Linked DNA regions of Homo sapiens: region 2 is linked to region 1. Evidence: fine-mapped QTL for protein levels in blood plasma. A gene starts in region 1. The other region holds a variant in brackets. All regions are shown on one strand. Distances are from middle to middle. Region 1 holds the start of NQO1 (NAD(P)H quinone dehydrogenase 1). Region 2 holds the start of NFAT5 (nuclear factor of activated T cells 5).

Region 1 (11,304 bases):
TTTTGTTGTTGTTGTTTTTAAGAGACAGTGTCTCACTATGTTGCCCAGGCTGGCCTCGAACTCTTGGGCTAAAGAGATCTCTCACTTCACCCTCCCAGGTAGTTGGGAATACAAGAGCACACCACCACTGTAAAACTTTTTATACTGGAAAAATTTAAATATTCATGGAATTAAGAATAAAATAATGAATGCCCATGTACCATACATTTTGTTTCAATACTCAGAAACATTTTGCCAATCGGTTGTTTTTGAAATAGTTTAAGGCAAAGGCATGACATAATTTCATTTTACCTCTAGACACTTCAATATGCATGTTTAATTGATACCTGACTTCAAAAAAAAAAAAAAACTATCATACCTAACTAAATATCATCTAATATCTGTTCTCTGATTTTCTCAAAGATTTTTTTTTTTTTTTTTTTTTTGAGACAGAATCTTGTTCTGTCACCCAGGCTGGAGCGCAGCGGCACAATCTCGGCTCACTGCAACCTCCACCTCCCAGGTTCAAGGGATTCTTGTGTCTCTGCCTCCTCAGTAGCTGGGATTACAGGTGTGCACCACCACACCTGGCTAATTTTTGTACTTTTAGTAGAGACGGGGTTTCATCATGTTGTCTAGGCTGGTGTCAAACTCCTCACCTCAGGTGATCCGCCCATCTCTGCCTCGCAAAGTGCTGGGATGACAGGTGTGAGCCACTGCACCCGTCCAAAGATGTCTTTTTATAGATGTTTGTTTGAATCAAGATCCAAACAATGTCTGCATATGACATTTGCTTGTTTTATCTTGTTAAATCTCTTACATTCTTTAACACAATTAACTGATGGTTAATTTTACATGTCAGCTTGACTGGGCAAGGAATGCTCAGATAGCTGGTGGAACATTGTTTCTAGGTGTGTCTGGGAGGGCGTTTCTGGGAGAGAGATGAGCATTTGGATCGGCAGGCTGCATTAAGGAAAATTGCCCTCACCAAGGTGGGCAGGCATCATCCACGCCACCAAAGGCCCGAGTACAATAGAGAGGAGGAGGCCGGGTAGATTTGCTTACTCTTTTCTTGAGGTGGGACATCATCTTCTCTTGCTCTCGGGCACTGCTGTTCCTGGTTCTTGGGCCTTTGGACTGGGAGTGGCACTTGCAACGCTGGCTCCCCTGGTTCTCACTCTTGAGTTTGGACCAAAACCACACCACCAGCTTTCCCCAGCCTCCTGCTTACAGACAGCAGATTGTGTGACTTCCCAGCCTCCAGAATCAAATGAGCCAATCCCTCATAAAATACAGCTTTTTTTTTTTTTTTTGAGATGGAGTCTCCCTCTGTTGCCCAGGCTGGAGTGCAGTGGTGTGATCTCGGCTTGCTGCAACCTCTGTCTCCAGGGTTCAAGCAATTCTCCTCCTGCCGAGTAGCTGGGCCTATAGGCATGTACCATCACACCTGGCTAATTTTTGTATTTTTAATAGAGACGGGGTTTCACCATGTTGGCCAGGCTGGTCTTGAACTCCTGACCTCGTGATCTGCCCGCCTGGGCCTCCCAAAGTGCTGGGATCACAGGCACATGCCACCACGCCCAGCTAATTTTCATATTTTTAGTAGAGATGGAGTTTTGCCATATTGGCCAGGCTGGTCTCAAACTCCTGACCTCAAGTGATCTGCCCGCCCCAGCCTCCCAAAGTGTTGGAATTACAGGTGTGAGCCACCACACCTGTTTGTTTTTTTTTTTCTTTGAGGCAGGATCTCACTCTGCCACCCAAACTGGGGTGCGATGGTGAGATCTTTGGCTCACTGCAGCCTTCACTGTCTGGGCTCAAGCAATCCTCCCACCTCAGCCTCCCAAGTGAGGGGGACTACAGACGCATAATACCACACGGGCCTAATTTTATTTAAAATTATGTTTTGTAGAGATGGGGTCTTGCTGTGTTGCCCAGGCTGGTCTCAAATTTCTGGCCTCAAGGGATCCGCCTGCCTTGCCCTCCCAAAGTGCTGGGATTACAGGTGTGTATTAGTCAGGTTTCTGTAGAGGGACAGAAGTAATAAGATAGACATATGTAGTATTAACTCACACAATCACAAGGCCCCACAATAGGCCATCTGTAAGCTGAGGAGCAAGGAAGCCAGTCCGAGTCCCAAAGCTGAAGAACTTGGAGTCTGATGTTGGAGGGCAGGAAACATCCAGCACAGAAGAAAGATGTAGACTGGGAGGCTAGGCCAGTCTAGCCCCACTTATTTTTTTTTTTTTTTTTGGTGAGGTGAGTCTCTGTCACCCAGGTTGGAGTACAGCGGTGTGATCTCGGCTCACCGCAACCTCTGCTTCCTGGGTTCAAGCTATTCTCCTGCCTCAGCCTCCTGAGTAGCTGGCATTATAGGCATGCACCACAACACCCAGCTAAATTTTTTTGTATTTTTAGCAGAGATGAGTTTTGCCATATTGGCCAGGCTGGTCTTGAACTCCTGACTTCAAGTGATCCACCCGTCTCGGCCTCCCAAAGTGCTGGGATTACAGGCGTGAGCCACGGCACCAGGCCTAGTCTAGTCTTTTCACGTTTTTCTGCCTGCTTTATATTCTGGCCGCACTGGCAGCTGATTAGTTGGTGCCCACCCAGATTGAGGATGGGTCCGCCCTTCCCAGTCCCACTGACTCAAATGTTCACCTCCTTTGGTAACGCCCTCACAGACACACCCAGGATCAATACTTTGCATCCTTCAATCCAATCAAGTTGACACTCATTATTAACCATCACAAGGTGTGAGCCCTGCACCCAGCAATATATTGCTTTTTATATATTTATAGAAATTCAATTGGTTCTGTTTCTCTGGAAAATCCTGATCAATATACACTCCTTCATTTTTCTTATAGCACTGAATTATGGGATAAACCAGGTTGGTTGTCCTGTAGAATGTCCCACACTGTGATTTGACTGATGTTTCCCCATGATTTTAACTTCTATCTCCTGTGTTTCCCAATCAACCCACTTGGGTTTTTGTTTTTTCTTTTTGTTTTTAGATAGGGTGTCACTGTGCTGCCTAGGTTGGAGTGCAGTGGTACAGTCACAGCTCACTATAGCGTCGACTTCCCAGGCTCAGATGATCCACCCATCTCAGCCTCCTTAGTAGCTGGATCCACAGGTGCACACCACCACACCTAGCTAATTTTTAATTTTTTTAGAGATGGCAGAGGTGGGGGGGGTTGCGGGGGGGTCTCACTATGTTGCCCAGGCTGGTCTTGAACTCCTGGGCTCAAGCGATCCCCCTGCCTTGGCCTCCCAAAGTGCTGGGATTACAGGTATAAGCCACCGCACCTGGCCCCAAACAACCCACTTTTTTTATTCTCTCAGTTTTTGCCCTTATTTAATCCCCCACTCTTACTTCAGCCTCGTTAGGAACTTGAGTCTCTGGACCCCTCTACTTTTTCTCTGCCAATAAGCCCTTTCATAATGTTCGTCATCACTCCAACCACTCTACTTTTTAAAAATGGACTTTGTTGAGGAATAACATGCATACAATAAAATGCTTGTATTTAAAATGTACTTTTCAGCGGATTTTAATAAATACATACATCTGTGTAACTACCGCCACCATCAAGTCGCTCTCTTCTTCACAGCCCCCACTCTGTCTCCTCTCATCATGCTTTCCCAACCTACATCAATCCCTCAGACTCCCCCTCTCCTGGCACGCCTGGCTGCAGACCTGCAGGAGAGAACACACACGCCGACCTGCTGGAAACCTGTACATCAGTACTGCCCTCCCGAGGACCCTCGGTCTTTGTCCAGGCAGCAGTGCTCGCCCATGCTCCACAGCAGCTTTTTCTTTTTCTTTTTTTCTTGAGATGGAGTCTCGCTCTTGTTGCCCAGGCTGGAGTGCAGTGGCACAATCTCAGCTCACTGCAACCTCTGCCTCCTGAATTCAAGCGATTCTCGTGCCTCAGCCTCCCGAGTAGCTGGGACTGGAGGCGCCCACCACCACACCCAGCTCATGTTTTTGTATTTTTAGTGGAGACGGGGTTTCACCACATTGGCCAGGCTGGTCTCCAATTCCTGAGCTCAAGTGATCCACCCGCTTCAGTCTCCCAAAGTGCTGGGATTACAGGCCTGAGCCACTGTGCCCGGCCAGTAAGTTTCTTTTTTTCTTTTGAGACAGGATCTCCCTCTGTTGCCCAGGCTGGAGTGCAGTGGCATGATCTTGGTTCACTGCCACCTCAAATGTCTGTCTTTACCACTGTGTAGTAACAAATTTGGCCAGGAGTGGTGGCACATACCTGTAACTCCAGCACTTTGGGAGATCAAAGCGGGAGGATCACATGAGCCCAGGAGTTTGAGACCAGCTTGGGCAACATAGTGAGACCCTATCTCTACCAAAAAAATAAAAAAAAATTAGCCAGGCACGGTGGCATGCACCTGTCATCTCAGCTACTCAGGAGGCTGGGGCAGGAGGATTGCTTGACTCCAGAAGGTCGAGGCTGCAGTGAACTATCATCATGCCCCTGAGCCCCTAAATCCCAAATGATAGGAGTGTCCATCTTATTCATTGTGGGCTTCTCAGACCACTCCTGATGGTTTATGCTAATGAGATGACTTGGGATGGGCCCCTATATAGTTCATGTTAACAAGATGACTGAGGATGGGAACTGGCCATGCTGGAAACCAACGACCGAACACGACACTTGAGCTTTGTGGCTTTGAGCCCCACCTCTGGATGGGTCAGGGAGACTGGTGATTGAGAAAACAATCTCACTAGAAGAGTGAGAGATAGAATAGCCAGCACACTGCGGCCTCGATCTGAACCAGCTCAGGTCTTTCCAAACACTAGTGACATGTGGCTATCTAAATTTAATTAAAGCCAGGCGCAGTGGCACATGCCTGTAATCCTAGCACTTTGGGAGGCCGAGGTGGGCAGATCACCTGAGGTCAGGAGTTTGAGACCAGCCTGGCTAACATGGTGAAACTCATCTCTACGAATAATACAAAAAGTGGCTGACTGTGGTGGTGCATGCCCGTAGTCCTAGCTACTCAGGAAGCTGAGGCACAAGAATTGCTTAAACCCAGGAGATGGAGATTGCAGTGAGCCAAGATCCTGCCACTGCACTCCAGCCTGGGCGACACAGTGAAACCCCGCCTCAAAAAATAAATTTTTAAAAAATTAATTTAATTACAATTAAAACTTCACTTCCTCAGTCCACTGGCCACTTTTTTTTTTTTAATTTCCATTTTTTTTCTTTTATTGAGTCCACCACTGCGGCCTTGAATTCCTGGGCTCAAGCGATCTTTTTGCCTCAGATCCTGAGTAGCTGGGACACAGGCGCCTGCCACCACGCCTGGCTGCTGGCCACATTTCCAGTGCTCAATAGCTACTTGAAGCTTGTGGCTACCTTACTTGGGCAGCACAGATAGGGAAAGTTCTATTGGACAGGGCTGCCTACCTAGCCCTTTTTTAAAACGTCCTTTTATACTATTTTGTCAGATGGGGTCTCACTTTGTTGCTCAGGCTTTTCTCAAACTCTTGGGCTCAAGTGATCCTCCTGCCTCAGCCTCCCAAAGTAATTTGTAAATACGTGTAAATAATATAGTCCTCTCTTGTTGCATCAAAATGAATGCAAAAATGTCACGATGGGGCCGGGCGCGGTGGCTCATGCCTGTAATCCCAGCACTTCGGGAGGCCGAGGCGGTAGGATCACCTGAGGTCGGGAGTTGGAAACCAGTTTTCTGGTGCCTCCTTAACTTTTGCACTGGAGGGACAACGGAAGGGCCCTGTGTCATCCTCACCTCCCCCATCTGTGATTCTTCTGATGGTTAATTACCACTTTAAAGCTCTAGTTCTTTTTCCTTCACCTACTGAGAGTATATCTCCTTCTTTACAGTAACTTTTACTTTATAGAGTTTTTTTTGAGACGGAGTCTCACTTCGTCACCCAGGCGGGAGTGCAGTGGCACGATCTCGACCCACTGCAACCTCCGCCTTCCGGGTTCAAGCGATTCTCCTGCCTCAGCCTCCCGAGTAGCTGGGACTTACAGGCGCCCGCCATCACGCCCAGCTAATTTTTCAGTACAGACGGGGCTTCACCAGGTTGGCCAGGCTGGTCTCGAACTCCTGACCTCAGGTGATCCACCCACCTCGGCCTCCCATATTGCTGGGATTACAGGCGTGAGCCACCGCGCCTGGTCCCGTTTTGGCTATTCTTTAATATGCTTCCCTATAACTGCTATCTCCACACCAGCCTTGCCTTAGCTCATGGGAAACAAAACCAATTAGTTCCCCCATTACCTGCCTTGAGGAGCAGGGGTGGTGCAGTGGCATGCACCCAGGGAAGTGTGTTGTATGGGCCCCCAAGTGCAGAATCTGAATCTTGCAAAGGAAGAAACAAATTCGTCTCCACGGAGCATGTCTCCCCAGGACTCTCAGCCTTCCAAATCCGCAGTCACAGTGACTCAGCAGAATCTGAGCCTAGGGCACCACAGTAATCCGCATCCGGCTCTTTTTCTGCTCCATTTCGTGCCAAGGCTAAAAGGGCATGCCCACTTGATCCCTGGACTCTCTTGGGACGACTTCCACCCTGCATCCTCTTGCACCTCAGGGCACAGTGCGCAGATGGGCTTGCCTTAGCACCCCCAGCCAGATTTTTGAGGCCTCTGTCACACACACCCCTACAATCCCCTCCCCCAGCCCCGAGAGACTTTTCTTGACTTCCACCAGTTGCTCCGGCGGGTGAGAGTGGAGAGGCCCCTCCTTCATCCCCCAGGCTCCCTCCCTTCCTGGAGCTGCAGCCTCAGCATCCTCCGCCCAGCACCCCAGGATTCAGGCGTTGGGTCCCGCCCTTGTAGGCTGTCCACCTCAAACGGGCCGGACAGGATATATAAGAGAGAATGCACCGTGCACTACACACGCGACTCCCACAAGGTTGCAGCCGGAGCCGCCCAGCTCACCGAGAGCCTAGTTCCGGCCAGGGTCGCCCCGGCAACCACGAGCCCAGCCAATCAGCGCCCCGGACTGCACCAGAGCCATGGTCGGTGAGTGCTGCAAAGGGCGGGGTGCTTGGCGGTCGTCTCTCGAGCACTGGTGCCTGTGGAGGAGGTTGTAGGGGCTTGGCCCTGAATTTTGTTCCTTGACTCAAAACCCACAAAGGGAAGAGATTAGGGACCTGGGATGAGCCTTGATCGGACTCCGGGAGAAGGAGAGCTTCTGTTTGTATCCGGTGTCGCGGATCCTTCCTCACTCCACCCCACGAACTCTAGTGGGCATTTAGGAGAAACTTGACCTTGGAAGCAGAAATTCCCTCCAAAACTGTGGTCAGAAACTGGCCGTCAGAGGCCAAATCAGGCTTACGGTCACAGCCCATACCTCTTTTGGTCTATAGTATCTAAAACACTTTGAAATAAGTTGCTAACATTAAAATGGGTGATTTCACTTAAAAATGTGGATTCCGAGCTTCTGAAGAAAATGAGAATATCTGGCGATTGGTGGACAGGAGTGGAGGAAACTGATGCCTTTGGTTTGACGGAGACCAGAACCGGCTCCAGGCTGCCAGGCACAGGTTTTGTTTTGTTTTGTTTTGTTTTGTTTTGTTTGAGACGGAGTTTTGCTCTTGTCGCCCAGGCTGTAGTGCAATGGCGCTATCTCAGCTCAGCGAAACTTCCGCCTCCCGGGTTCAAGCGATTCTCCCATCTCAGCCTCCCGAGTAGCTGGGATTACAGGAGTGCGCCATCATGCGCGGCTAATTTTTATATTTTTAGTACAGACGGGTTTCGCCAAGTTGGCCAGCGCGGTCTTGAACTCCTGACCTCAGGTGATCCACCCACCTCAGCCTCCCCAAGTGCTGAGATTACTGACGTGAGCCACCGTGCCTGGCCTTGGGAGGCATTTTCCATTGAGGCCCTTGGATTAGGCAAACCTGATCAGATCGTACTGGATCCGTTTCTAGTATTGGGTCCACTTCAGTGATAGAGCCTTCCCACTCGGCCATCGACCCTAGGGGAACTCAGAGGTCACCCCAGCTCCACCCAAGGCATAAATAACCAGCTGAGACAACTGCAGGGATTGAGAGCTGTTTCCCAAATAATCTCACTCTGAGATTGGACAGTACTAAGATTTAGAAAGCTGTTGCCTCATCTGGGGCAGAATCCTGTGTTTTGTAATTTCCTTCCCTGTGGACCTGGTCCTGCCTCTAAAAATGCGCCTGTACACAAAGAAGCCCATCTTGGTCAAAGTGAGTGGAGGAACAGACTGCCCTTGCAGTTGACAAACTGAAATTATCAGGATCTCTGAGAAAGGGACTAAGCTGGGGATTGGTAGCCCAGCATGAGTTACTGGCAGAGACAGCAGGGAATAGATTCTGACAGCTGAGAGGCTTGCCGCATACACGGTGGTTGCTGTTTCCCTTGTATTTCATTCTTCAGCGTCGAGGCACTGGCACCCTCTCCTCCAATACTAGGGCAGGAACTATTTCCTGACTTTTCAATCTTACAGAATGTTCTGTATTTACGTGTAGCTTAAACACAAAAAAGGGCGGTGGTAATGAGGTGAAAAGGGAAGACTTGGATCTTGTATAATTAGTTTTAGCTGTACCCAGCTAACCAAATCTTGAGGTTAACTAAAGCATCCAGGTTTTTTGTTTGCAACTAATAGATGCATCTGATTTGCACTCATGTTCCCTGGAGCACTCAAGTGAGAAGAGAAGGCAGAAGGAGAATGCATGAAACTGATACAAAGGCTTATCTTTATCATACTTCTTTTTTTCTTTTTGAGACAGGGTCTTGCTTTGTTGCCCAGGCTGGAGTGCAGTGGCATGATCAGGGCTCACTTCAGCCTTGACCTCCTGGGCTCAAGTGATTGTCCCATCTTTGCCCCCGAGTAGCTGGGACTACAGGTGTGTGCCACCACACCCAGCTAATTTTTTTTGGTCAGAGCAGAAGAACTTGAAACCCAGCTAATTAAAAAAAAAAAAAATTTTGGCTGGGAGTGGTGGCTCATTCCTGTAATCCCAGCACTTTTGGGAGGCTGAGGCGGGAGGACTGCTTGAGGCCAGGAGTTCAAGACCAAGATTCAGCTCAAATGGCAAGCTCCTCTGAGGGCCTTTCCGAATGGGCCAGCCCTGAGGTCCTGAAGTTTTCCTCTGTTGAACTTTTTGAGATGGAGTCTCACTCACTCTGTTGCCCAGGCTGTAGTGCAGTGGCGTGATCTTGGCTCATTGCAATCTCCACTTCCCAGGTTCAAACGATTCTTGTGCTGCAGCCTCCCAAGTAGCTGGGATTACAGGCGCCCACCACCACGCCCAGCTAATTGTGTATTTTTAGTAGAGACGGGGTTTCACCATGTTGGCCAGGCTGGTCTCTAGCTCCTGACCTCAAGTAATCCACCCGCCTCGGTCTCCCAAAGTGCTACGATTACAGGCATGAGCCACCACACCCAGCCTTCTGTTGAACTTTGTCCCTTACCTCTCCTAACACACTAATGCCATTGTACCCTGAAGAGGTTATCCGTGTGTGCATCTTGTGGCCTCTCTCAGGGTAAACTCTAATAGTCTAACTCCTCCCAGGTCATGTTGCTCAGCTAGTTAAGTGGCAGGAAGGGAAAATGAACCCTCCAGGGCCCAGAAAACTTTTAAATTGCCTATTCACAAGCATCTTTTTGTTTGTTTGTTTGAGACAGAGGCTTGCTCTGTTGCGCAGGCTGGAGTGCAATGGTGCGATCTCGGCTCATTGCAACCTCCGCCTCCTGGATTCAAGCAATTCTCCTGCCTCAGCCTCCCGATTAGCTGGGATTACAGGCACCTGCCACTACACCTGGTTAATTTTTTTTTGTATTTTTAGTAGAGACGGGGTTTCACCATGTTAACCAGGCTGGTCTCTAACTCCTGACATGAGGTGATCTGCCCGCCTCAGCCTCCCAAAGTGCTGAGATTACAGGTGTGAGCCACCGCGACCCACCCACAACCTTCTTTTGATCATTTTTCTTTTGAGTTGTTTTGGGGATCTACCTATTCCAGGTACTGCACTTTGATGGTTATATTTGTTGCAAATATATTATTCCTGCTTGTGTGTTGCCTTACATGAAAAATTGTAAAGTCACAGGCCTGCTTATAGCTATTAGAGTCTGAGCTCCTTGAAAGAGCAAGAGATGGATATCCTGATTTGCTCATTTTCTGAGAAGTGCCTTGACTGTCTTACTACTTAGAAAATGCTTGTTAACATTGATGAGAAGTCAATAAAATAAAAACTGTTGGCTGGGCGCTGTGGCTCACGCCTGTAATCCCAGCAGTTTGGGAGGCCGAGACAGGCGGATCACGAGGTCAGGAAATCGAGACCATCCTGGCTAACACGGTGAAACCCCGTCTCTACTAAAAATACAATTAGCCGGGCGTGGCGGCGAGCGCCTGTAATCCCAGCTACTCTGGAGGCTGAGGCAGGAGAATGGCGTGAACCTGGGAGGCGGAGCTTGCAGTGAGCCGAGATCGCGCCACTGCACTCCAGCCTGGGCGACAGAGCGAAACTCTGTCTCAAAAAAACAAACAAACAAAAACTGTCAGAGCGGCGATCAGTAAACATTGATAAGACTAATGGCAAGGTAAGTTACAAAGAAAATGCCTGTTAGAGCTGAATATGCTCACTTCCCTCCCAATCATGTTAAATCCATGGGTTAAAGAGGTAGGAATTTGTTGAGGCAGCCTCAGAGCTTCCTTTTCCTTTTTCCAAGCTATCCCAAGCAAGTCAATCACTTCCAGCGCATTGAAATCATCACCAGACACCTATTCCACTGAGTCTTAGTTTTAAGAGTCCAAAACCCTAGGACCAAGTTTGGAAATCCCCTGGTTTGGCATATTGGGCCCTGAAAGTTACACTTCGCTGAATTTAGCCCAAGAGGCACTTGCCTTGCTAGATGTGGTCAATAATAAAAGCAGGAAGAGAGCTTAAGGTTTAAATGTGCCTTTCTAGTTATTTTAGTTATTTCTAGTTATTCAGATGGTGCAAAAAAGTTGCAGATGCCGGCTGGGCGCGGTGGCTCACGCCTGTAATCCCAGCACTTTGGGAGGCCAAGGCAGGTGGGTCATGAGGTTAGGACATCGAGACCATCCTGGCTAACATGGTGTCTCTACTAAAACAAAAAATACAAAAAATTAGCCGGGCGTGGTGGCACGCGCCTGTAATCCCAGCTATTCGGAGGCTGAGGAAGGAGAATCGCTTGAACCCGGGAGGCAGAAGTTGCTGTAAGCCGAGATGGCGCCACTGCACTCCAGCCTGGGTGACAGAGCAAGACTCCATCTCCCCCGCCCCCACCCCCACCCTGCCAAAAAAGTTGCAGATGCCTTCTCTCCCAGCTCCACCCACT
Region 2 (11,304 bases), 160 kb after region 1:
AAATTCAGTAAAAGACTAATCACAGTGTTTCCTGAATGAAAAAGAAGTGATAAACATTCATGGGTGGGAAGCAATAATGATCATTACCTATTTACCACATAAATGTTAAAAATAAAAGAGAATGGGCTGGGCACGGTGGCTCATGCCTGTAATCCCAGCAGTTTGGGAGGCTGAGGGAGGCAGATCACCCGAGGTCAGGAGTTCGAGACCATCCTGGCCAACATGGTGAAACCCCATCTCTACTAAAAAAATACAAAAAATTAGCTGGACATGGTGGTGCGTGCCTGTAATCCCAGCTACTTGGGAGGCTCTGGTGGGAGAATTGCTTGAACCTGGGTGACAGAGGTTGCAATAAGCCAAGATTGTGCCACTGCACTCCAGCCTGGGTGACAGAGCACGACTCCGTTTCAAAAACCAAAAAAAAAAAAGAGAAAAGTATATATTTTTCAAAAGCTATTAAGAACAAATAAAAGTAACTGAACTCTCATGTAACAAATGTTTAGTTCAAATGATTAAATATATATATCCTTTATTACATCAAGTTTATTTATTCTGAAAGCTAGATCCATTATCTGTAGTTAACTCATAGAGGAAATCTCTACCTTTTCACTCAAGTACATAATTATCATTGGTCTTATACTCTGTTAGTTTATTTAAACTTGACTTTTATTAACACAAAAGCAAACAGAAGACACAGCAACCTTCTTTGCGTAACTTGAAATAAAATCTTAGCAACAGCAAGAAAAGACAATAATACAAATTAATAAGCAACATTTCTATTGAAAAATGTCTTTTACCTCTCTAAAGTTAAAAGGTCTATATCCTATGCCACTGAATAATCTTTATTTTTTTCTAGTTACCTGTTACTCTTAATATAAAATATACTCTGAGGAGTCAACTTTTTCATATAAAAAGTGTCTGTTTTGGCCGGGCGCAGTGGCTCACGCCTGTAATCCCAGCACTTTGGGGGGCCGAGGTGGGTGGATCACCTGAGGTCACGAGTTCGAGACCAACCTGACCAACATGGAGAAACCCTATCTCTAATAAAAATACAGTATTAGCCAGGTGTGGTGGTGCGCCCTTGTAATCCCAGCTACTTGGGAGGCTGAGGCAGGGAAATCGCTTGAACCTGGAGGTGAAGTTGCGGTGAGCTGAGATTGCACCATTGCACTCCAGCCTGGGCAACAAGAGCGAAACTCTATCTCAAAAAAAAAAAAAAAAAAAAAGTGGCTGTTTTTTATATATAATACTAATCACACTGGGAAATGTTTTTCTGTACTACCACTTTGAAATTTTAGGGGACTCCTGGAATAATCAGAGTCAAGAGTAAATTAAAATCAGGCCAAGAACCACTGGATTAGAATATGAATTTATATCCTTTTATTTTAAATAAGCAATAGAATTCCAGTATTGAGTGAAAATAATGAAAGCAGAGTTTAGGAAGGGACACAAAAACAGGTGGTAAGCAATCAGAAAGAGATGGATCTAAAGACAAGAAGCTGGGATGAACTAGGTATGACTTTTGACATGTTTGAACTTCATTATTTCCATAATACTTTTAGTTTACTAGACATGGATCCACAGAGATTATTAGATACTAAACAAGAAAAGAATTCAATAGATTATTTTTCATGTTAAATGTTTTCAAAAAATCCTTTCCAAAAAGGTATCTTTGTACATAAAATATTATAGGCATTTATGATCTATGATATAACAAGGGCCCTAGGAAGAAATATAAATCAGAAATATTCTATAAAGTCAATAAAACATTGCTACTATGTTTAGGATTTTCCATTTTTGCACTATGAAGTATAATTCTGGATGGTACCATATCAAATAGATTAGCAGTAGTAAAAAAAAAATCATAGTTTATTTTCTCTTAACTCATTGTCATATTTCACATTTTCTTTTAAAAATCTTCCGGTCTTAAATGTTTAATTTAAACAAAGATTGTGGCCGGATGCGGTGGCACATGCCCGTAATCCTAGCACTTTTGGGAAGCCATGGAGGGTGGATCATGAGGTCAAGGGATCGAGGCCACCCTGGCCAACATGGTGAAACCCTGTCTCTACTAAAAATACAAAAATTAGCTGGGTGTGGTGGCACGCGCCTGTAGTCCCAGCTACTCAGGAGGCTGAGGCAGGACAATCACTTAAACCCAGGAGGCAGAGGTTGCAGTGAGCTGAGATCATGCCACTGCACTCCAGCCTGGCAACAGAGTGAGACTCTGTATCAAAAATAAATAAATAAATAAATAAATAACAAAGATTATATCAGATCAGCATTTAGCTCTTATTTAACCAGTTCTTTCATTTGATATATAATCTCTTAACTCATGCTTTTAAAATCATTAAAATTGTTAAATCTATTGTTTATATTTATCTATTTTTCCAATTTGTTTATACTCTTATTTTTCCTGTTTTATCTATGATTTTTCTATAATCTTATATTTCTCTATTTCTAGAATGATTCATTCAGTTTCATTTCTATCTTAGTTTTTCATTTGCCAAAATGAATAGTTTTCATTATAGAATGTACAACAAATGGTGCCTTTTCTCTGCAGCTGAATTTTTTTCCCAGGCACTTCAAAAAGGAATCCTAGCCTTCGAATTTGAACTTACTAATGGCAAACAATTTTATTTAAAAAAAATATATAAACCATGTTCTTTAAAGATGGAAAATACAAAAATAGAATTGAAAAATAGAAAATCAGTGATGTATACTTTTGTTCAGGATTTTTGTAACACAAGTTACTTTGAATATAATTGTAACAGCATAATTTTTATTTACTTATTTTATTAAGAGTGTCACATGTTAATTATGGGGTTACCAGAAACATCATTTAATGGCCATGTATTATAACATTAATTAATTAGCCAGGACCCTTTTCCCATTGTCAGGCAATCATCGTATTAAATTTAAAAAGAGGTTGCAAGAAAGACTAGCACTGTTTTGATAGGAAGGTTAAATGCAAACTCAGTTGAATAGTAGACATTTTGAATCTACTTCTAAAGTTTAATAATACCCAAGCGCAGGCCAGGTGCGGTGGCTCACGCCTGTAATCCCAGCACTTTGGGAGGCTGACGCAGGCGGATCACGAGATCAGGAGATCGAGACCATCCTGGCTAATATGGTGAAACCCTGTTTCTACTAAAAAATCCAAAAAAAATTAGCCGGGCGTGGTGGCAGTCGCCTGTAGTCCCAGCTACTCAGGAGGCTGAGGCAGGAGAATGGCGTGAACCCAGGAGGTGGAGCTTGCAGTGAGCCGAGATCGTGCCACTGCACTCCAACCTGGGCGACAGAGCAAAGACTCCATCTCAAAAAAATAATAATAATAAATAATAATAATAATACCCAAGTGCAGGTTTTCCAACCTTGTTTCCCCCCAAAAAAAAAATTTAAATTTGGAAAACGTACGTTCTATAAAAAAATTAAATTATATCACACCAATTACTTAAATTCCCCTCACTCTGGGCCAAGTTTTTAAATACTATTTATAGATGAAAATCTAGACTACTGATGTAAAACATGCATACATAAATATTACTAGACAGAACTTGATAGTATATACCATTGGGAGTTAGTACAGCACAGTAGTCAAGAGGCTAGGCTAAAGTGAGACTACCTGGGTTGGAATTCTGGTTCTACAATTTACTAGCTTGTGACTCTGGGTGAGTTATGCCTTCAATTGCTCATCTCTAAAGTAGGATAATAATAACCATCTCAAAGGGTAGTCAGGAGAATTCGCTGAGTTCTTATTTTGTTTGTTTGTTTGTTTGTTGTTGTTTTTTTGAGACAGAGTCTCACTCTGTCACCCAGGCTGGAGTTCAGTAGAGTGATCTTGGCTCACCACAACCTCTGTCTCCCAGATTCAAGGGATTCTCCTGCCTCAGCATCGCGAGTAGTTGGTATTACAGGTGTATGCCACCATGCCTGGCTTTTTTTTTTTTTTTTTTTTTTTTTTTTAGTAGAGATGGGGTTTCACCATGTTAGCCAGGCTGGTCTCAAACTCCTGACCTCAAGTGATATGCCCACCTCAGGAGTTCTTATTTGTAAAGTTCTTGGCACACAGTAAACACTCTACAGCTAGCATTTAGTTTTTAAAAATTTTTTAACTTTAGCTAACATTTACTGAGCACTTAGCATGTGCTAAATTAAATGCTTTACACGAATTTGCCTCAAATAATCTTCACAAAAACCTAGGATGAGGCACTATTATTGCTCCCGTTTAAAGATGAGAAAATTGAAGCAAAAAAGATTAAATTATTAGGCTAAGGCCATACAAGTAAATGTCAGAGCAACAATATGAACTCCAATCTAGCAGCATGGCCTACAATTTCAACATAGGTTATAGGATATACTATATACTAGAAGCGGTAGCCTCCTGCAGCACTCTGTCTTGAAAAGAGGGCAGGAGAGTCACAAGAGACTTTGCTGAAATAAACTAGAATATTCCAAGAAATAGTTTATAAACTATACAGAGTAATTAAAAATTAATACAATAATTATATTAACAATTAAATTATATCAATAATAATTAATATAAGAAAGTCACTGTAATACAGAAATACTTATGTATGAAGTGATCTGATGTTTGATATTTGTTTTAAAATAATCCAGCTTGAGAGAGAAGAAGGGATAAAAGAAGCAAGATTAGATACTGGTTAAACTGTGGTGATGGGTATATGGGGCTTATTTTATTCTCTCTACTTTTATGTATTCTTTAAAATGTCAATAATAAAAAAGAAATAGCAATGAGGTGGCACAGATTAGACACTTCATTACAGAAGCAAACAACTTTTTTAAGACACCCTGTCTCAAAACATTTTAAAGGGCATGACAGAATTGATACTTATACATGTTATATTTTATATATAATTTCTAAAAGGGTAGCCTTACTTTAAATGAGAATCCCCTTAACTAAAATGAAAAATTAACGAAAGTATTTAGGCATAAACATGTAAATAAACATGCTAAATGGTTGTCTGTATTTCCATCAGCTCACTAAAAATATTTGCTTAAATAATTAACACTCATTTTTTTCTTCATGTCTTTCTCCTCCCTGATCATCTCTATGATTATGACACTCTATGGTTTGTTGTCCAGGAAATGAGATGGGTTTGTACAGACAAATATGTCTCTACAACATGGTCACAAATTGAATATGAATAAAAACCAGAAATCTGCTTCACTAAGAAACACTGCTAAAAATTTCTCACTTCAAATTGTAGTTTTAAAAATATTTGATTTTCATACTAATGTATATCTATGGGCTTCTTACACGTACAAAACAAATTTAACCAATTATTTATTTGAGAACATTTTATATGCTCTAAATTATACTGTTAAAAAAATTTAGCTGATACTAAAGGAAAAAACTAACATTTATTAAGCTAGACGCTATGCTAGGCAATTTAATACACATTAGCTCACTAAATTTAAGAGACAGCTACATTTTAACAGGAAGAATATTAAAGTTTAGAGAGGTAAAATCACTTGCCCGAAGTCACAGAACTAATAAGGAGCTAAGTTGGTATTCAAATTTAAGCTCAACTACAAAACCCACTTGCCCCCCACTATCCCGGACTACCTCCAAGGGAGGCAAAAATCTTCTCAAGTCAAACTTAAATATTTAGGGCCTTTTTAAAGTAGACCATAAAATGTTTGTTACTGGTTACATGTGTATTTCACGGTGGCCGCTTTGCATAAAGAGCACTAACTGAAACGCAGAAAGTATTATTTCTTCTACTGTGGGACTTTTTTTTTTTTTTGGTTTCTTAATTTCAGCCTTAGTTTCTCTTCTCTACAATGGGGAAATTAGTACCTTTGCTGTCCAATTCCAAAATTATAAAGATTTAAAGATGATATATGTGAAATCACTTCAAAATCTACAAAAACACAAGACTATTTTATGTCTTAAAATGTTAAAACACACACACACACAAAGCCAAAAGTTTTCTAAAGTAAGTGTAAGCTGTTTAAACTAATCTACAGACTCTATTAACATTTCCAGAACTTTCTAAACCCCTTTCTTCTAAGCATAGCTCAATCATCATCGCTATTACTTGGCTTTCCTTACCCTTAAGTATAATGCAATAACAATGGCATCAATGCTTTTGCAATAAATAATTAACATATTTTGAAATGCTCAGCATATAAATGTTCTAAATTCTGAATTTTCAAACTAATTATGTGTTTGGTGTCACTCTTTTATATTCATGTTAATGTTTGGGCCTTTTCACATTCTATTTTGTGTATAAAAAGCTAAAATGAAGGTCTGGAATTCTAAAGTAGAACACTCAACACATAATTTAAAATGATTTTTTTTTCAATGTTTCTCAAAGCAGATAGAACAGCCAACAAGCACATCAAACGCAGCAACAAAACCCATTGAAACATTCAGCTGCTCTAAAAGAAGGATCAGACTCTTTAGGAGAAAACTACATTGTGTGAGTTTGCAAAGTTTCATACTTTCCCATTTAAACTCCATTTCAGAGAAAGCCTTTGCATACTAACACAATATGCTTTAAAATGGTACTTTGCTGACCTTCCAATAGTCCAGCTCTATGAAAATTCTGTGATGGGTGTAACTTCAGAGAATCTGAAAAACACAAAAAGCATTAGGTACTTTTTATGCTGAATGAGGAAAAAAATGCCAAGGATAGCATACATCTCTTATATAACTGCAATGTGTGTGTGTGTATATATATATATA[T/C]ATACACACACACACACACACACACACACACACATATATATATATACACACATACATTTTGAAACGGAGTTTCGTTCTTTTTGCCCAGGCTGGAGTGCAATGGTGCGATCTCGGCTCACCGCAACCTCCGCCTCCCGGATTCAAGTGGTTCTCGTGCCTCAGCCTCCCGAGTAGCTGGGATTACAGGCATGCACCACCACGCCCGGCTAATTTTGTATTTTTAGTAGTGACGGGGTGACGGGGTTTCTCCAAATTGGTCAGGCTGGTCTCAAACTCCCGACCTCAGGTGATCCAACTGCCTCGGCCTCCCACAGTACTGGGAATACAGGCGTGAGCCACTGCGCCCGGCCAACTGCAGTGTATTTTTAAGCGCTAAAGCCCATATTTGTGAATATATTCCCCGCAAAAGAGGCTGAATTGTCTCTACATTGGTCTCGAAGCTAAACTTAGATTTTCATAAAGTATATGTTTCATGGAAAATTATCTGATGATTACTCCCCAAATGGTGTTAATGTCTTGGCTATTTTTAGCACTCAATTCTAACACATTAGCCCTGCTCTAAGAATCATCTCTTGATATGTCTCTTTTTTTTTTGACATTCAAAACTACAATATTTCTAAAGTACCTCAGGTAATGTTGCCCGAAAAACATCCTACAGGATGGTGGCTGCCAACTAAAGTCATTGGAGCAACAGACAGTGGCTACAATTACTAAGTAGGACTCTGTGTACAAAATCAATGGTCAGTCTGTAAAGTCCAGCACCTTTCAGAGTAAACCATCTCACTCTGATTCACTTAAACAATTTAGATACACTAGTAGGAAGGTGAAGTCCCTTTTTTGGAGGGGGTGGAATAAGCAAATGGATGGATACATCAAACCAAAAGCAGAAGAAACACCTACATTTTTTTTTACACGGTGAAATGAATAGTTAACAACCCAGTTATGTCTTTTGCCCCCTCCCGGTGGTTTAAAAAGCGTAAAGAGCGCAGTGGGAATATTTTGGTTTTGAAGCCCCTTGCACAGGGAACCTGTTCTGACACATTCTTGTGGTGTCCAGTAAAGGAATTTCACCTGAGTAGGGATCAGCTCCAGTGCTAATATTTCAGATGCTGGGAATCCCCTGCAGGCCTTAGCCAAAAGAGTTCTTAAATGAAAAGTCTCTGCCTGAGCTCCCTCCCTGCAACCAGCCCTTGAACGGAAAAGCAGAGAAAATTCTCAAAGGACAGCGTCTGTGCCTGGGCTGGTCCTCCTGGGAGAGGAGAGGAATAAAACCAATCCAGAGAGGGCACCCCCATCTTTGTAAAGGAGAAGGGAGAAGTAATTAGAATGCCACGGAGGTGGGAAGAGAAAAAAAAAGAAAAGAAAATTCGGGCCCTTTCCATCGGGCCCTTTCCAGCAAGAAGATGACGAGGAAAGGAAGAACGCCTGGTCGAGGGGGGCTGTCCCAACATGGGGAGGGAGTGGACTAGGCCGGAGGGAGAGGGGGTGGAACGACGGCGCAAAAACAAGCTGGAAAGGGAGGAAAATGGTGACCCTGCACTCAGAACCGGCTCCAGGCCACGCCGCCCGCTTGGGGGCAACTTTGCTGGGGAGGAGGGTCCCGGTAAGAGAAGACGCGGCGCCCCGATCGCGGTGGCCCCAGCGCGGGGCCCAGTCTGGGGCCATCCCCGAGCCCGGGAGGCCGGGGCCGGCGGCTCGCGGAGCCTGGCGGGGCCGGACGGGCTGAGAGCGGCTAGAAGCGACCGGTGCCGCAGAGCCCCGGGGGCCGACGGAATCTGGGCCCCGAGCGGCCGGCGGCTCCGCGGGGGAGGGGCCGCCACTGCTCCGCCCGCCCCCTCCACCGTCACCCCGATCCCTTCGGCCTCTGCCCGCTCCGGCCAAAGAAGCCATGGGGGTCGCGGCTCAGCCGCCCCCGGCGGGACGGGGACCCCTCGCCTCCCCTGGCCCTGTCTCCCTGTCTCCCTGTCTCCCCGCCCCCACGCCCCACCCCCCACAGCCTGACTCACCTCGCGAGTAGAGGGACTTGGGCGATTCCAGGTCTAGGTCCGCGCTGAGCAATGAGATGAAGTCCGAGGGCATCGCAGCTCGACCCAGCCCGGCCCGAGGGCAGCGGGAGGGGGGGAGCGGCGGTGGCGGCGGCACCTCCTCTCCGGGACCGCGGGCACCGAACCGGGGGCGGCGACGCGAGGGCGGCTGCCGCTGCCTCCTCCTCGAGGGTAGTGACTTCCACTGGGCCGAGGACCGAGGAAACGATGGCGAGGTGGAGGGGGAACTCCACGGGGACTGATTCTCGGTGACCAGGAGAGGGGTTCAGGACGGGGAAGGGGAAGGGGGAGAGCCAAAGGGTCCGTTTCGTGTTTCTCCTCAGCGAAAACTGACGGTCGCCGCCACCGCCGCCGCCGCTGACAGGAATCTGAGCCCCGCCCCCGTGGGGCACAGCGCAGGCGCGGAGGGGGGTGCCCGGGAGCGCGGAAGAGCCGTGGCGGCCCCCGGAGGGCGGGGAGGCGCGCCAGGGAACAGCAGCAACATGGGCCTCGCTTCCTGCCGGCGCGGCCCGGGCTGCTGCTGTTCCTGAGCCGGGAAAGGGCCCCGCTGCCAGGGTGGGAGGGGGGGAGGCTGGGAGGTGGCCGCGCGCTGGGGCCCCGGGGAGGGAAAAGGTATTTGCAACGACCTGGTGGCGGCGAGCCTGAGGCGGCCGGCCCCGAGCAGAGCTGAGCGCAGGAGACAGAGCCGAGAGAAGCGAGAGGTCTGCGCGAGCCGGGGACGGACCCCAGAGGCCGGCGGCGGACGGGCCTGGCTGGCCCGGGGTCTCGCAGGGGACCGGAGTGTCATCGCCCGGACAGCCGCCAACCCTTTGGGGTTTGCATAGCAGTGTGTACAAAGGGACTGTCAAACCCATTTCTTAATTAGGAAATGGCAAACCGTATCCCAAAAACCTCGAGTTATTGATTTTTAATTAAAGTACTTTCTCCCCTAACACTCCCCTCCTACCTTTGGAGGCTGAAATTTTTTTTAAAAAAAACGATCTCTCTGATTGTGCTGGGGCATCCGGGTTATTCGGAGTGGGACATAGAAGACAATTAAAAAATTGGATCATGTGAATCCACCTGGCTGTTCTAGAGGAAAAACAGGTAAAAAGCAAACCTCAACGCTACTCTTCCAAACAGTTTTTCTTTTTTCTGTTTCTTTTTTTTTCCTTTTGGACTAGGCAAAGATGGAGGAAGAACGCATTTAACTGAGTTTTTGCTCTTGCTTTTCTGTTCGTGGAGCCAAAAGTTTCCGTTGCAAAAATTTAAAATCCTCACCCACACCGCAGAGCGTTTTCTGATTCTAATAGACTTCTGAGAAATTTTTAATCAAGTTATTGAAATATTACCTGGAGTGCAGGGTGTGCATCTTGGGAAGTAATTTTAATCTTGTGTGGAATATTGATGCCAGTAGCCACGTGGGCATGGTTTTTAAGCTATTCGAATGGTTTCGTTTTTTATCTACAAGGATAGTTACAACTCATGAAAATCAGTCTGTTGTAATATGTGTATGTGTATATATATGCACACATATATATACATACATATATACACACATATATACATATATATATAATTATAGAGACTTTTTCCCATGAAATTGAGCAGTTCTCGGGACTTGGAGTGCTAGGGTTGGGGTAAGAAGCTCTCAGCAAAGGAGGGCCCAGTACAGATGTCGCTGAGGCAAGGCCCTTTACAAAGTTTTACCTGTAGACCTAGAATTTAAACGTGTGTCATCAGAGCTCACCTATCTTTCATCTCAACATTTGATTCAGGTTGCCCAGTTGTCTTCACTGAATTGTGTGTAGTAATCAATCCTGTGAACATTTTTCTTTTGTCGGAGGTTCAGAAAGCTTTTCAGAGCCACCCCAAGATGGCAAAGCAGAACAAGAAACTGCCCTCAAATTGCCATCTCTGCTGTATGGTGTCGTGACAAGTCCCAAGGGAAGTCCCTTCATAACTGATAAGAGCCCCACTCATTTGAGAGAGAAAGATTGAAACCTCACATTGCCCAACAGGCCAAGGCCTACTGAAATCCTATAGCTTCTGAATTGGAGTAAACACACCTCTTGGAGACCCCCCATACGCCACCCATTAGTCAGTATACAGGGTAGCAGAGAGGAAATGCGATTCACCACCCGATACTAAGAAAGTTGACTGAATCACTCTGAGCAGATCCCTTTTCCCCAGACCGATGTAATCACTTAACAAACTTAGGGTATAGGAAATCCCCAGTACGGTTCTGACCCTAATTAACTAGTCAAGAACTGGCAAGGCCTCTTCCTTTTTCTGTGAATCCTTCTCTGCCCTTTTGTGACCTTTTTATTCCCCGTTGAGGCTTTGTTGTATATGTTAATCAGATTTCCCCTGATTAGGTAAGAGCAAAGTGAAGAGAGGCCCACCAAAGTGTGGCTTGACCTAAACTGCGAATTCCCTGAGAGGGATTCTGTGGGCTCAGGCCTCACTTACCTCATTAGGTCCTGCATTAAGCACGGATTATATCTAAATAGGTATTTGAAAAATCAGTGTCCACTCCCACCCCCTGCACCTGTCTTCTTACAG

Evidence for each region. PIP is the posterior inclusion probability: the model's chance that the variant is causal. Sun 2018 read protein levels with aptamers (SomaScan).
Region 2: its variant is fine-mapped to the plasma level of the NQO1 protein (Sun 2018, PIP 0.95).

What each region holds. Positions count from the first base shown.
Region 1 is chr16:69,722,118-69,733,421 of GRCh38, reverse strand. It overlaps NQO1 (NAD(P)H quinone dehydrogenase 1), which reads left to right and starts at 6,862. Exons shown (of 6, transcript NM_000903.3): 1 at 6,862-6,989. The coding sequence starts at 6,983. NQO1-DT (NQO1 divergent transcript) reads right to left here and starts at 6,695. Exons shown (of 2, transcript NR_186363.1): 1 at 6,247-6,695. RefSeq lists enhancers at 5,393-6,386, 6,595-6,854, 6,101-7,300, 6,387-7,379.
Region 2 is chr16:69,563,792-69,575,095 of GRCh38, reverse strand. NFAT5 (nuclear factor of activated T cells 5) reads right to left here and starts at 9,130. Exons shown (of 15, transcript NM_138713.4): 1 at 8,722-9,130; 2 at 6,548-6,601. The coding sequence starts at 8,794. It overlaps MIR1538 (microRNA 1538), which reads left to right and starts at 9,228; the gene lies at 9,228-9,288. RefSeq lists silencers at 8,335-8,644, 8,665-8,934, 9,229-9,405, 9,125-9,504 and enhancers at 10,624-10,763, 10,166-11,062. The variant T/C (reference allele first, on the strand shown) is at 6,716.